2 linked regions of the Homo sapiens genome follow. The protein of the gene in region 1 interacts with the protein of each later gene in a pairwise test. Each region holds a gene or a part of one and is shown on either strand. Other genes may lie near its edges.

What was found. Proteins that work in one complex are often made in the same cells at the same time.
Region 2: the proteins of LRRN4 (region 1) and DZIP1L interact in binary tests that used the Homo sapiens proteins (3 or more experiments, as listed by UniProt).

The regions. Positions count from the first base shown.
Region 1 is NC_000020.11:6,039,527-6,044,867, forward strand, and holds the end of LRRN4 (leucine-rich repeat neuronal protein 4 precursor), read right to left. Parts: intron 5,155-5,341; coding exon 5,017-5,154; intron 2,721-5,016; coding exon 1,496-2,720; 3' UTR 1,020-1,495; downstream 1-1,019. UniProt on the Homo sapiens protein: May play an important role in hippocampus-dependent long-lasting memory.
Region 2 is NC_000003.12:138,112,609-138,120,217, reverse strand, and holds the start of DZIP1L (cilium assembly protein DZIP1L), read left to right. Parts: upstream 1-4,609; 5' UTR 4,610-4,890; intron 4,891-6,737; exon of another isoform or gene 6,738-6,829; intron 6,830-7,609. UniProt on the Homo sapiens protein: Involved in primary cilium formation. Probably acts as a transition zone protein required for localization of PKD1/PC1 and PKD2/PC2 to the ciliary membrane.

The DNA of each region.
Region 1 (5,341 bases):
AGATACATAGGATTTAAACTCGATTTGTTTTCTTCTTACAGTAGAAGTAAATGCTCTTGTGGCTTGAATCGCATCTCCCAAGAAAGATACGTTCACGTTCAAACCCCCAGTACTGTACATGTGACCTTATTTGGAAATAGGGTCTTTTTAGATGCAGTCAAGATAGAATTAGATCATACTGGATTACAGTGGGCCCCAATAACTAGGTTTTTTTGTTAAAAAAAAAAAAAAAGGAAATGTGAACAGAGAGAGAATGCCGTGAGATGATGGAGGGATAGATTGGAATGATGTCTGCGAGCTAAGGAATACTGAGGATTGCTGCCAACCATCCGAAGCTGGGAGAGGAGATGGAACAACTCCCTCGGAGCCTCCAAGAGGAACCAACCCCACTGATGCTTTGATTTGGGATTTCCGGCCTGAACTGTAGGAAAATAAATTTCTGTTCTTTTAAGCCATTTTTACCAGTTTGTGGTAACTTGTTACAGCAGCTGCAGGAAATTAATAAATGCCAATGTTGAAAATTAAAATCTAGAAATATGGCTCTAATTATAATTTCATAGAATCATTTTTTCCCCTGAGTTTCCCCTGAGTTTGCATAAAAGTGAAAAAGTAGAGGACAGAGTAGATGCCTCCCACATGAAGACACAGATTATTAAGGCATTGTTTGATGCAATTAGGGCAGAGAAACACGGGCTTCTAGCTAGAGCCTCGGGTTCTCTTTTGCTCATTTCTTCCCTCTAATTAAGAAAAAATATTTCCAAAGTTTATTATGCCTCCTAAAAAATGAATTTATAATTCATTTGTCCATTTAGTCTTAGGTGAAATGCAGTAAACACTAACTTAAAAGGACAGCCTTTCCCTGTGTTTGACAAATGTTCCCAGAAAACTGGTTTTAACTGTAAAGCCGGGAGTACATTTTCTTGTCATGTCCTGAAATGGAACTAATAAACCCAGAAGGCCTTAGGAAGCAACCATTAGCTCTCCCCCTTACCCTAGTTCTCAGGAATTGGAACTGGAAATCCACTGGAATTGATTTCTTGAATAACAGAGCTCGTTGTGTCTTAGAGCTTGACCATGAAGGAGCTTCCGCTGGAAAGACCTGAGGATGTGATTTCTAACATGATCAAAGAGGCTGGGTTATGCAACTTCTCTGTTTCATCCCTTCCTACGTCCATACACTATTCTACTGGATAGAGAGGCACTGACTGCTGAAAACCGCAAATGAACCAACAACACACAAGAAGGCCTGGCGGCAGTGGGGAGCGATCTGGCATTGACCATCAGGTTTCTGGGAACAGAGTTAAGTAGAAGGAAGGGAGGGCAGCAGTTCCTTGGACCCAGACACTCAGTGTGGCAAGTTCCATGTGTGCTCAAGGCATTCTGGCTTCACGGGAATTAGAAACCCTAGGAGCGGATGGGGTCGTTTTTGACCGTCTGTGTCTTCCTTTTTGCGCTCAGATCCAGTTCGATGAGACGCGTTATCCCAGAAGCTGGGCTAACTGACGGTCTGGAGCCCCAGCGGGTAATCATCAAAGGCCGGGTTTTTGTAGGCCACCAGGTGCGTGTCGCAGCGCTGCAGGCCCAGCGTCTGGCCCCGCCTGCAGAGACATGCGGACAGCACCACGGTGCTGGCGAGCAACAGGCCGCTGGCGGCGCACAGCCCAGAGAGCAGGAGCGCGAAGCTGGGCTTGGTGGTGAAGGCGGCGCACGGGCTCCTCCAGCCCGAAGACCGTGGCTGGCTCAAGCCCGCCCTGTTGGCCGCCAGCACGCACACGCGGTAGGTGGTGCCCGGCGACAGCCCGTACAGAGGGTGCTGCCGGGCCGTGGCGTAGATGACCCCCACCACCGACTGGTTCCCCGCCCAGCCCTCCGCAGAGTAGCGGATCTGGTACCCATGCACTACCGAGTTGGGGGCACACCAGTGGACCAGCGCCGACGTGTCCGTGGTCTCCGTCACCCCCTGCAGCCTGGGCGGGTCTGGGATGGTGTCTTCCCCGCTGAGGCCGGGGCACCGGCACCGCCACCGCCTCTGCAGCTCCGCGCACGGGGTCTGCAGGTGCTTGCAGGGATGGTAATCACAGGGGACGTCCTGGTGAGGCGTTCCCACCTCCTCCTTCCTCCCTTCCTCCTCCTCACTGTAGTCGTCCAGCAGCAAGACTGGAATCTCGCCCTCGGAAAGACTCGGGTTGGGGGCTTGGGGTGTGGCGTGTGTCCTCTGGCCGGGCTGAGGCGAGCTTATGCTGCGGTCCCACGAGGTAGGGAAGGGGCCCAGGAGCTTGCTGGCCAGTGGGGTGGAGGCAGCTGAGATATCAGGCTCAAGGACAAGCTCGGGGGCATGTTCTCCTCGGTGCTGGGTCCTGGTGGTGCTGGCAGCCCTGGGGAAAACGCTGGAGTTGCTGTGACCTGCTACAGAGTTGGTCGTGGAGGGGGCAGTCCCCTCCCGTGCATCGCTGTGCGGCCATGCAGCTATCGTGCGAGAGCCCACGTTAGGGGCCTTGGAGACACTCTGCTGGTCTCCCGCAGGCCGGGTGGCGGGGGCTGCGCTGGGCGCGACGGTGGTACCCTGTGCGTAGGTGGAGCGGTTGAAGCAAGGTGGGTGTGAAGCCCCGAGAGTGGTGCTTTGGTCGGACTGGCACACTCCGGGCAGCTGGGAGAGTGACAGGGAGGCTGAGAAGGGGCCGCTGGATCCCGCAGCTGGCGCGCACATAGTGTCTGCTGCCCTGGAGGGGAGGCCAACCAGTTAGAAGACGTCTGGCTTCAGGGACACTTCTGCGCAGAGCTTTGAATCCTCATTGCCGACGTCACCCCCTGCCAAGCCCATCAACGCGTCTCTGCCAGGCACCCCAGGGCACACACGCCGCACACACACATCACCTCATTGATTCTGGGGAAACCTTTGGAGGAAGCTCCTGTCCTCACTCCCACTGGGCAAAGAAGCAAACAGAAGTTTAGAAGGAGGAACTAATTGCCCAAGACACCATAGCTAGCAATGGCAGAGCCTACCCCGGGGCAAGCACTGAGAAGGAGTCCAGATTCTCTGAGTGTCATTTGCCATTTTGTTCTCACCTGTCTGCTTCCTGGCAAGAAAGCACTAGTAATAAAAATCATACTCGGGCCGGTGCGATGGCTCAAGCCTGTAATCTCAGCACTTTGGGAAGCTGAGGCGGGCAGATCACAAGGTCAGGAGGTCAAGACCATCCTGGCTAAGACGGTGAAACCCCCTCCCTACTAAAAATACAAAAATTAGCCGGGCATGGTGGCGGGTGCCTGTAATCCCAGCTACTCAGGAGGCAGAGGCAGGAGAATCACTTGAACCTGGGAGGCAGAGGTTGCAGTGAGCTGAGATTGCACCACTGCACTCCAGCCTGGGCAACAGAGGGAGACTCTGTCTCAAAAAAAAAAAAAAAAAAATACTCATACTAGCTACCATTTCTGAGTGCTTCCCACGTGCTAGGCGCTATTCTTCACACTCCAATGTGTCAACTAATTTAGTCTGCACTACTTTTGCAGTAGACTCTATTACCCCATTTTACAGATGAGAAGGTAGAGGCCAAAGTAACTCAGGTGAAATAGCTCAGCTCAAATCAACAGTAGTAAGTAGACCAGGTACAGTGGCTCATGCCTGGAGTCCCAGCACTTTGGGAGGCCCATGTAGGAGGATCACTTGAGGCCAGGAGTTGGAGACCATCCTGGTCAACATAGTGAGACCTCGTCTCTACCAAAACAAACAAACAAAAACTTAGCCAGGTATGGTGGCACATGGCTGTGGTCCCAGCTACTTGGGAGGATGAGGCAGGAGGATTGCTTGAGCCCAGTAGTCTGAGGCTGCAGTGAGCCATGATCATGCCACTGCACTCCAGCCTGGATGACAGAGCAAGACCCTGTCTCTAAAATAAATTAATAAAATAGTAGTAAGTAGGATGAAGCTGGACTCTCTGGCTCCAGAGCCTGTAGTCTCAGCTTCATCATTAATACTGTGATGAGACCCTTGACTGCAAAGGGCCCAGGTGCTTCTCTTTGGAGGGAATGTGGGGTTGGGGGGCAGACTGAGCCCCACCTCACAGCTGGGCTTGGGTGGGAGATGAGAAAAGAATCTTGGCCGGGCATGGTGGTTCATGCCTGTAATCCCAACTCTTTGGGAGGCCCAGATGGGAGGATCACTTGAGTCCAGGAGTTTGAGAACAGCCTGGGTAACATGATGAGACTCCATCTCTACAAAAAGATTAAAAAAAAATTAGCCGGGTGTGGTGGCTTGCACCTCTGGTCCCAGCTCCTCTAGAAGCTGAGTAGGATGATCGCTGAGCCCAGGAGGTTGAGGCTGTAATGAGATATGATTGTACCACTGCACTCCAGCCTGCGCAACAGAGCAAGACCCTGTCTCCAAACAAATAAACAAAAAGAATCCTGCAGAATGGTGGTGAGGGGGGTTGCCTCCCAAGGTATAGTGTTTACTTGGTGGAAATGGTTTGAAAGTGCTCAGGACTGGGGGTGTTCCCAGCCCCCCAGCTCCCACTGTCTCCTGGTGGCCAGCCTAAATGTGGCTCCTCACTGCAAAAACAGCTCTTTCTAGCCAATAGTCTTCATAGGAATTTCCCAAGAGAGCTCTGTAAGCCCACGGGCCTAGGACTGGATAACCCGGGAGCAGGAGGCCAGGCTCCATCTTGAAGATTCAGTAGAACCCAGTGGTTAAGCCAGACTACACTTCCCAGCCTCCCTTGCAGGTAGGTGTGGCTCCTGGCTAATGAATGTGAGTGGAAGTGAGGAGTAACACCTCCCAGCCTGGCTCACCAAAAGCCTCCAGGTCTGCTCCTCCATGCTCTTTGCCCCTTCTGGCTGGCTGGAATGGAGGCAGCTTCCATCACCTGGATCCCTGAGTATGACTACATGGGAAAGGCTGCCCAGCCCAACATGGCCAAAGTGCCAAGCATGGTCACATGAGCAAGATGTAAGCTGGAGAACTTCAGCTCCTGAAGGCTGACCCTCTGCCCTCAGCCATCTGCTTTGTAAATGTGTTACCTGCTTAGGACAGTTCTCTTTGCATCCGTGAGGAGCCAAGACAAGTCACAACTGCAAGTGAGGGGGTTGCCAAAGAGGTTGATCGATAGGACCTGGGAGGAATCCAGGGTCCAAGGAGGGAAGGAACTCAAGTTGCAGCTGAAATACAAACAAAAAAATTAATTAAGTCAGGTTTTTACAATTGTATCAAAGATATTCCCAGAGAGGCATGGTGTCAGAACCATGCCCATGGTATCAGAAGCATTCTGATAGGGGTTGGAGAATACCGCTTTGGGCAAAACTCTTAATGACCTCGAACTTCATTTTTTGTCCTCTGTTGTAAAAT
Region 2 (7,609 bases), on another chromosome or scaffold:
TTCCTATCACATTAAAGTTATTACGGATATCTTGAAATAATTGTTTACACTCTTACTACTTTTAGGTCAGATGCTAGATCTTGCCATTTAATGCATTAATAAACAAAAATGCTATTATTTTACACATTTTCTTATGTTTTCATAGCTATATTTTCAATATTTTGATGTCCTCTGTAATTCTATGTTTTGCTTGGTGCATTTAAAACCATTCTTAGGCTGGGCGTGGTGGCTCACACCTGTAATCTCAGCACTTTGGGAGGCTGAGGTGGGCGGATCACAAGGTCAAGAGATCGAGACCATCCTAACCAACATGGTGAAACCCCGTCTCTACTAAAAATACAAAAATTAGCTGGGTGTGGTGGCAGGCGCCTGTAGTCCCAGCTACTTGGGAGGCTGAGGCAGGAGAATCGCTTGAACCCAGGAGGTGGAGGTTGCAGTGAGCCGAGATCATGCCACTGCACTCCAGCCTGGAGACAGAGCAAGACTCCGTCTCAAAAAATAAATAAATAAATAAAAAATAAAAATAAAAACCATTCTGAGGAAAGGGTGTGGGCTTCATCAAACTGCCAAAGAGGAATCCCTCCTCCAAAAGGCAAAAGCCCAGGCAGGAGGCAGCTGGGGCAGCTCCTTCTAGATCCCACCCGCCCATCACTGCCAGCCAATGAGGGGCCATATCACAGCCACGCCTTAGGCCAGGCTTATCCAGCTCTGCATTTTCATTTTTGCAGAAGGGATGTTTTCCTGAGAAAGGAGGTCTTTTCGGTAAGTGCTCAGACTTCCTTCAAAGTGAACTTTTCAGGGATTGGGCTAGAATGTACGATCTGCCTAAGAAAGTTTCCTCTCAGATCCTGCCAGTTCTAGACATGTCAGAGTGCAGGCCTTTCTTTTGTTGCTAGATTCTTAGATTTTTCAGAAACCAGCAAACCAGATTTTATGTAAAATCCTCCTCTGACTGTATGCCTGCCTATCTATACATCAACGCAGAAAACCCAACAATACACTTTTGACCTAAAATCACCTCAGGGCTCATTAGTGGCCGGCATCCCAGCGCAGGGAGACCTGTCCCATACACCTCAGATACACTTCCCTTCAGGAGAATGGGATCCAGAGCAGGTTTCTAAGGTGTGATGCCAGCATTTGGCAGCAGAGGGCACTCCTATTACAGGCTGTCTAGGCTGTGTCCTATTTCCTGAGGTGTAGGAGGGAGACCGTCTGTGAAAGGGGCTGAGCTGGGTCAGAGGGCGGGTGACTAGTACTGGGCTGAGGAGGGAGTGAGGGGCCATTGGGATATTGAAAATCCATCCTCCTGTCCTCCCACCCAGCAGTTATGGGCCAGCTGCTCGGGGTGACAGGAATGTCTCCTGGACTAGCCAGCTAGGGCCAGTCTCCCTTGGTCTATGCACCTGTCCCCACGGCTGATGCCAGAGCTTGTGTGTGCTACAGTAGAGGTGGGCAGCAGAAATGACAGCTTTCCAGTGCCAAGTGATCTAGTCCTCTAGAGGTTGTTGGTATCCTTGGGACTAAGAAAATAACTTGGCACATGATAGGCATGCAGTAACTCCTCCCTGTGTTGAGTGTTGAACTAAGGCCCAGTAAGGGAAGAGTGTGAGGGTTCCATGCATGAGGTCTTAGTCAGCTCAAGATTCAGGATTTGGTTTTTGGCTAAGGTAGATCTGGGTGCATGTCAAGTCTACTTTCTTACACCAGCCCTGCAAAGGAGGGCACCCTATTTACACATGGGGAAATTGAGGCTGGTGGAAATAACATGCACAAAGGTATCCTCAGAACTACTTTCTGCAAATTTCAGGGATACAGTGGGAAGAGAGCTGAGAAGCAAATGTCCTTGGCGATTTCACAGTGTCAAGTCAGGAGTGCACACCACTGACTTGTAGGCCCAGGGCAGAGCCTACATGTAATTTAGCTAATTTGATTCTAACAACTCTTCTAGGTAGAGTTTACTTTTCCCATTTTACAGAGGAGAAAAATGAAAGGTCAGAGAGGCTACGTGACTTTCCCAGGGTTATGTAGCTTGGGAATGTGGAATGTAGATGTGTCTTTGACTCCCAAGGCCTGGACTCTTCTCTTTGCTCTTGTGGGTGGCAGAAAATCCTGGGGTGAAAAAAGTGCCCTGACTAGGAGAAGACGGCAGGAACAAGATCCCCCATCCGAATACATGGTGCACAGATATCCCAACTTAGTCCTGGTCCCTGCTCCATCCACTATTTTTTTTTAATGTTTAAAAAATTGTGATAAACTGTACATAATGTAAAATTTGCCATCGTAACCATTTTCAAGTGTACAATTCAGTGGCATTAAGTACATTCACATTATTGTGCAACCATCACTACCATTTATCTCTGGAACTTTTTCATCATTCCCAAACTGAGAATCTGTACTCATGAATCAATAACTACTCATTCCCCCTCCTCCAGCCACTGGTAACCACTATTCTACTTTCTGTCTCTGTGAATGGACTATTCTAGGTACAAGTGGAATCATACAATATTTCCAGGTATAAGTGGAATAATACAATATTTGTCCTTTTGTGTCCAGCTTATTTCATTTAGCATAATGCTTTTGCCTTGATCTGAATGTTTGTGTCCCTGCAAAATGGGGTTGAAATCCTGACCCCCAAGGTGACGGTATTGGGAGGTGGGGCCTTTGGGGGGTGGTTAGGTCATGAAGGTAGAGTCCTCATAATTGGGACTAGTGCCCTTATGAAAGAAACCCCAGAGAGCTAGCCAGCCCCCTTCTACTAAGTGAGGGTGCAGTGAGAAGATGACAGCCTATCAACCAGGAAACAGGCCCTCACCAGGCACCGAATCTGCCAATGTCTTGATTTTGGACTTCCCAGCCTCCAGAACTGTAAGAAAAAAACTTCTATTGTTTATATGCTACCCACTCAATGGTATTTTGTTATAGCAGCCTGAATAGACTAAGACAGTTTTCAAGGTTCATTCATGTGTCAGAATTTCCTTCCCTTTTAAAGTTAATATTACATTGTATGGATATACCACATTTTGCTTATCCATTAATCTGTCGATAGACATTTGAATTGTTTCCACTTTTTGGCTATTGTGAATAATGCTATTATGAACATGAGTATACAAATATCTGTTTGAATCCCTGCTTTCAGTTCTTTGGGGTATATACCCAGAAATGGAATTGTTGGATCTTTTGGCAATTCTTGTTTAATTTTTTGAGGAACTACCATTCTGTATCCACAGTAATGGTACCATTTTACATTCCCACCAGCAATGCACAGGAGTTCCAGTTTCCCTGCAAGTCCTTGACAACGCTTGTTCCCATACACATTTGCTTTGGCTGCCTCAAAATGTAGAGCTTGGCAGATTGAGATTGTGGTGGGACGAAAGCCTTTGAAATGGAAAAAAGAGAAAGAGGGAGGGAGAAGAGTTGCGGAGTGGAGAGAGAGAGAGTGTGTGTGAAAAGGAGCTTTTTTCCCACTCTTCCCTGACCCTCATGGGGGCTGCAGCGACTCCTAGAACCTTCAAGCAGCGAGACAGAGGTTCCCTCCACCAGGCGCAGAGCTCTCCTTACACCTGGCCTCCTATTCCCAGCAACTTTAAGGAGATATTTTTAAGTGGCCATGGTTTTATCAAATGCCTATTAAGTTTTTGCCACAAAAGGATTTTATTTAAAATAAAAATAGGGGTAGGTATTTGACTGATGCCCCTTGTGAGTGCTCTAGAGAAGAGGAATGAATACTGACATGTCCTATCTTCCCAGATGCAGAATTGTAAAACAAACATAACTGCTTTTCACATGTGAAAGAAAACTGGCTTAGAACATACTAGCGTTTTCTTTGCCATGAAGGAGTTCACCTTCAGTGACTAAGCCAGAACTACTAGAGTTGCCGGGCCTAGGGACAGGAGACATTGCCAGTGCTTAGCCAGGCTGGCCAGGACTAACCATCTCTGCAAGGAGTCCACAAGAAGCCTCAGGGCAGCCTTTCCCTGCTCCTATCAATTTGAGTTGAGCAACAAACATTTTGACCAAATATCAGCTCTATGGCACAACTCACAGTTACGGTGCCCACAAAACGGAATCTCAGCAAAGCAACTACTACTATGGGAAGAGATCAGGGACTAATATCAGGAGAAAAAATAAGTTTTTCAGTCCTGGGTTTCCAAGTTGGCATCCCCAGGGCAAACCAGCAGGTTGGGAGGGTAGGGGGTGGTGGGTGGGGGCTGCGGAGGGAAGGTGGCTGCTGTCTGTCTGATCAGACCTGGGGCACACCCAAAGAACTCTCCTAGCTTGGGATCCGGTCAGGAAGAAACCAGGACGGTCCCTTTAGGAGGGTGGGCAGGGCTATCTGCCCGGGGGGTGCGGCCGCCCCTGCACAGCAGGCTATCGATTGTACCGGAGGCAGGGTGTGGGGAAACCGGGGCAAGTCCAGCCTCTCAGCAAGGCCAGGAAGCCATTCACTTGGATCCTGGATTTTACTAACGGATTAAACGTGGCATTCCCGCCTTCCCCCATCCGTTACAGACCTAAAAATAGCTCGTCCGAGAGGGGCCGGGAGAGGCTCCACCTCTTCTTGAGGTGGGGCGGGGCGGCTGTAGTAGGAGCTGGAGGCACCAGAGACCCCAAGCCACGAGCTGACCGACGCACCGAGGAGCTCTCTGTCCGCGGTCCCGCAGGTTGGCGGCACTGGAGTGGGCCGGGCAGGCTCTGCCTCCGCCGCAGAGAGCGCCCGGACTGCGTGGGGCTGGGGAAGCATCCCGGGAACGGCGGGCGGTGAGCATTCCGGGAACCATCTCTGGGCTGTCTGGGGCGGTGGAGCAAGTCTGGAGGCGGGACGTGGGGCGAGTATGGGAGCCGCCACCTCGAGACGTCTTCCCGCCGTCCCCGGCTCCAGGAGACCCCACGGTGAGCGGGCCGCGCGGGAAAACTATGCCAGGAATTCGTCCCGGGAGCGGGGCGGGTGGGTAGCTTGGCTGCAGTCCGAGGGATCAGCGATTCGGGAGGTTAAACATTAGCGGGGGCGAACTCCCTGCCGGGGTGCAGCGGGGCGCGGGAGGAGCCGGCTGCGTGCGTCCGCGCTGCCCAGGGCGCGCCCTTCTGGCCCGGCGCGGCCCTGCAGCCCGGCCCCCTCGGCCTGCTCCGAACTGCGGCGCCCAGGGAGGGAAGGACCCGTGCGCGGGGGACGAATGACGGGATGCCCCAAGACTCGGCTTCACTGGGAAGACGGCCTTGGGTTTTTACTTTTTGAAAAAAGAAAAGTGATTTGGGAGGGCTTGATGATCTGAGTGCCGTAGGTAAAGGAGGATTCTTTTAGTAATGAGGTGATTTAAAAGCAATCGCATTGGCATCTTTCGTTCCCCTTCTTCCTTTCCTGGGCTGGACCTCAGCAGGAGGCAGACGTGGTATTTTCATCCTGAGGTGGCTGCGCATAAAGTCCACCGAAGACCTGCTCAGTGCAGGACAGGGATCAGGAGGCAGGGCAGAGGAGGGGGTCCGAGGCTGCCTGGGCAGGGCCTAGTTCACGGAGCACTTCCTAGGGGCCCAGGGCCTAGGCTGCCCCTGCCTGGTCTCCTGGAATTCGATTTCTAACAGGACTTTGGAGAGAGGCCTGGGAAGTATGGGGTGTTCTGACTTGGCTTCTCACACCCTCATCTGCAGATAGGGTGGGTGATCTCTCCCTTCTCAGTTGCAGCCCCTAGCACCTCTCCTCCCCCTCCCGGATGTGAGGACTGGCCAGTGAGAACAATCCTGCTTAGGGAAGGCTGATCCTCCAGTCTAGTGGCTGATAAGGGGCCTTCTGACTGTCTTGGTCAGACACCTCCCTCATCTGGGAATATTTTTTGATACTATCTAACTTGATAAAATACCTCATGAAGTTGTATGCTTCAGGTTGGGAACAGAAACCTGAGTTCATGTGGGCACCATAACTGTGGGTTGTGCCATGGAGCTGATATTTGGTCAAAGGTTTTTTGCTCAACTCAAATTGATAGGAGCAGGGAAAGGCTGCCCTGAGGCTTCTTGTGGACTCCTTGCAGAGATGGTTAGTCCTGGCCAGCCTGGCTAAGCACTGGCAATGTCTCCTGTCCCTAGGCCTGGCAGCTCTAGTAGTTCTGGCTTAGTCACTGAAGGTGAACTCCTTCATGGCAAAGAAAACGCTAGTATGTTCTAAGCCAGTTTTCTTTTACATGTGAAAAGCAATTATGTTTGTTTGTTTTACAATTCTGCATCTGGGAAGATAGGACATGTCAGTATTCATTCCTCTTCTCTAAAACACTCCCAAGAGACATCAGTCAAATACCTACCCCTATTTTTATTTTAAATAAAATCCGTTTGTGGCAAAAACTTAATAGGCTTTTGATAAAACCATGGCCACTTAAAAATATCTCCTTAAAGTTGCTGGGAATAGGAGGCCAGGTGTAAGGAGAGCGCTGTGCCCGGTTGAGGGGACCTTTGTCTCGCTGCTTGAAGGTTCTAGGAGTCGCTGCAGCCCCCATGAGGGTCAGGGAAGAGTGGAAAAGGAGAACACCATGGAATCTGAGAATAAGGCTAAGCTCTGCAGTGGCAGTACTTCAGGAGAGCTCCCAGGTCCCTGTCATCTCTGTTGAGGTCTCTGGAGCTCCCTTGCATACTGTGTGTGCATAGCCTGTTTGCAAACTGTGTGAAGGTTTCCTTGGCAGCCACAACAATTAGCATTAATGACACGCCTGAGCTCCCCCAGTGGGCACTGCTGAAGTTAGCTTGGGAGCCAGGGCAGGTTTGTAAATGATTGCCTGGCAGCCACCTTGGAAACTTGGCTCCCTCAAGTTCTCCTCTTGACTGCATTCTTGAGGAAGCAGAAGAGACAGTAAAGTGGTGATGTTGTTGTTGTTGTCTAGCTGTCAGTTTATGTTAAAAAATAAGGTGTTTGGCCAATTTTGAGGGAGTTATTTTTGACAGATTATTGGTGGGCCGGTTTTAGAAGAACCATAAAGTCTCCAGGGATTGTTTCACAGTGGGATGGCTGTCTTGTGAGGTGGTGAACAACTTGTCACTGGGAGTGTGCAAAGCAAGGGTGGTAGATGGGTTTTCTATATTCTAGATGGGTGTGGGATTGTCCCAGGCAGAAACCAACTCTTAACAATGAAGCAAGTTTGAATGTTAGCACAAATATTCTTTTGGGTCCCTTATTCATAATATTGGTCTAGGAATGGGAAGTTTCCCAAAACCCTGTCAATATATCTAAAGGTGATTAAACAGCTTCAGTTTTCCTAATGACAGTGAGTCATTTCTTCTCTCTCTTTTTTTTTGAGACGAAGTCTCACTCTGTCGCCCAGGCTGGAGTGCAATGGTGCGATCTCGGCTCACTGCAACCTCTGCTTCCCAGGTTGAAGTGATTCTCCTGCCTCAGCCTCCCGAGTAGCTGGGACTACAGGCATGAGCCACCACGCCCAGCTAATTTTTGTATTTTTAGTAGAGACAGGATTTCGCCATGTTGGCCAGGCTGATTTTGAACTCCTGACCTCAGGCGATCTGCCCTCCTTGGCCTCCCAAAGTGCTGGGATTACAGGCGAGAGCCACTGCTCCTGGTTGACAGTGAGTCATTTCTTCCTTGTGTTTTTATTCCCAGATGTGGGAAAAGCAGTCT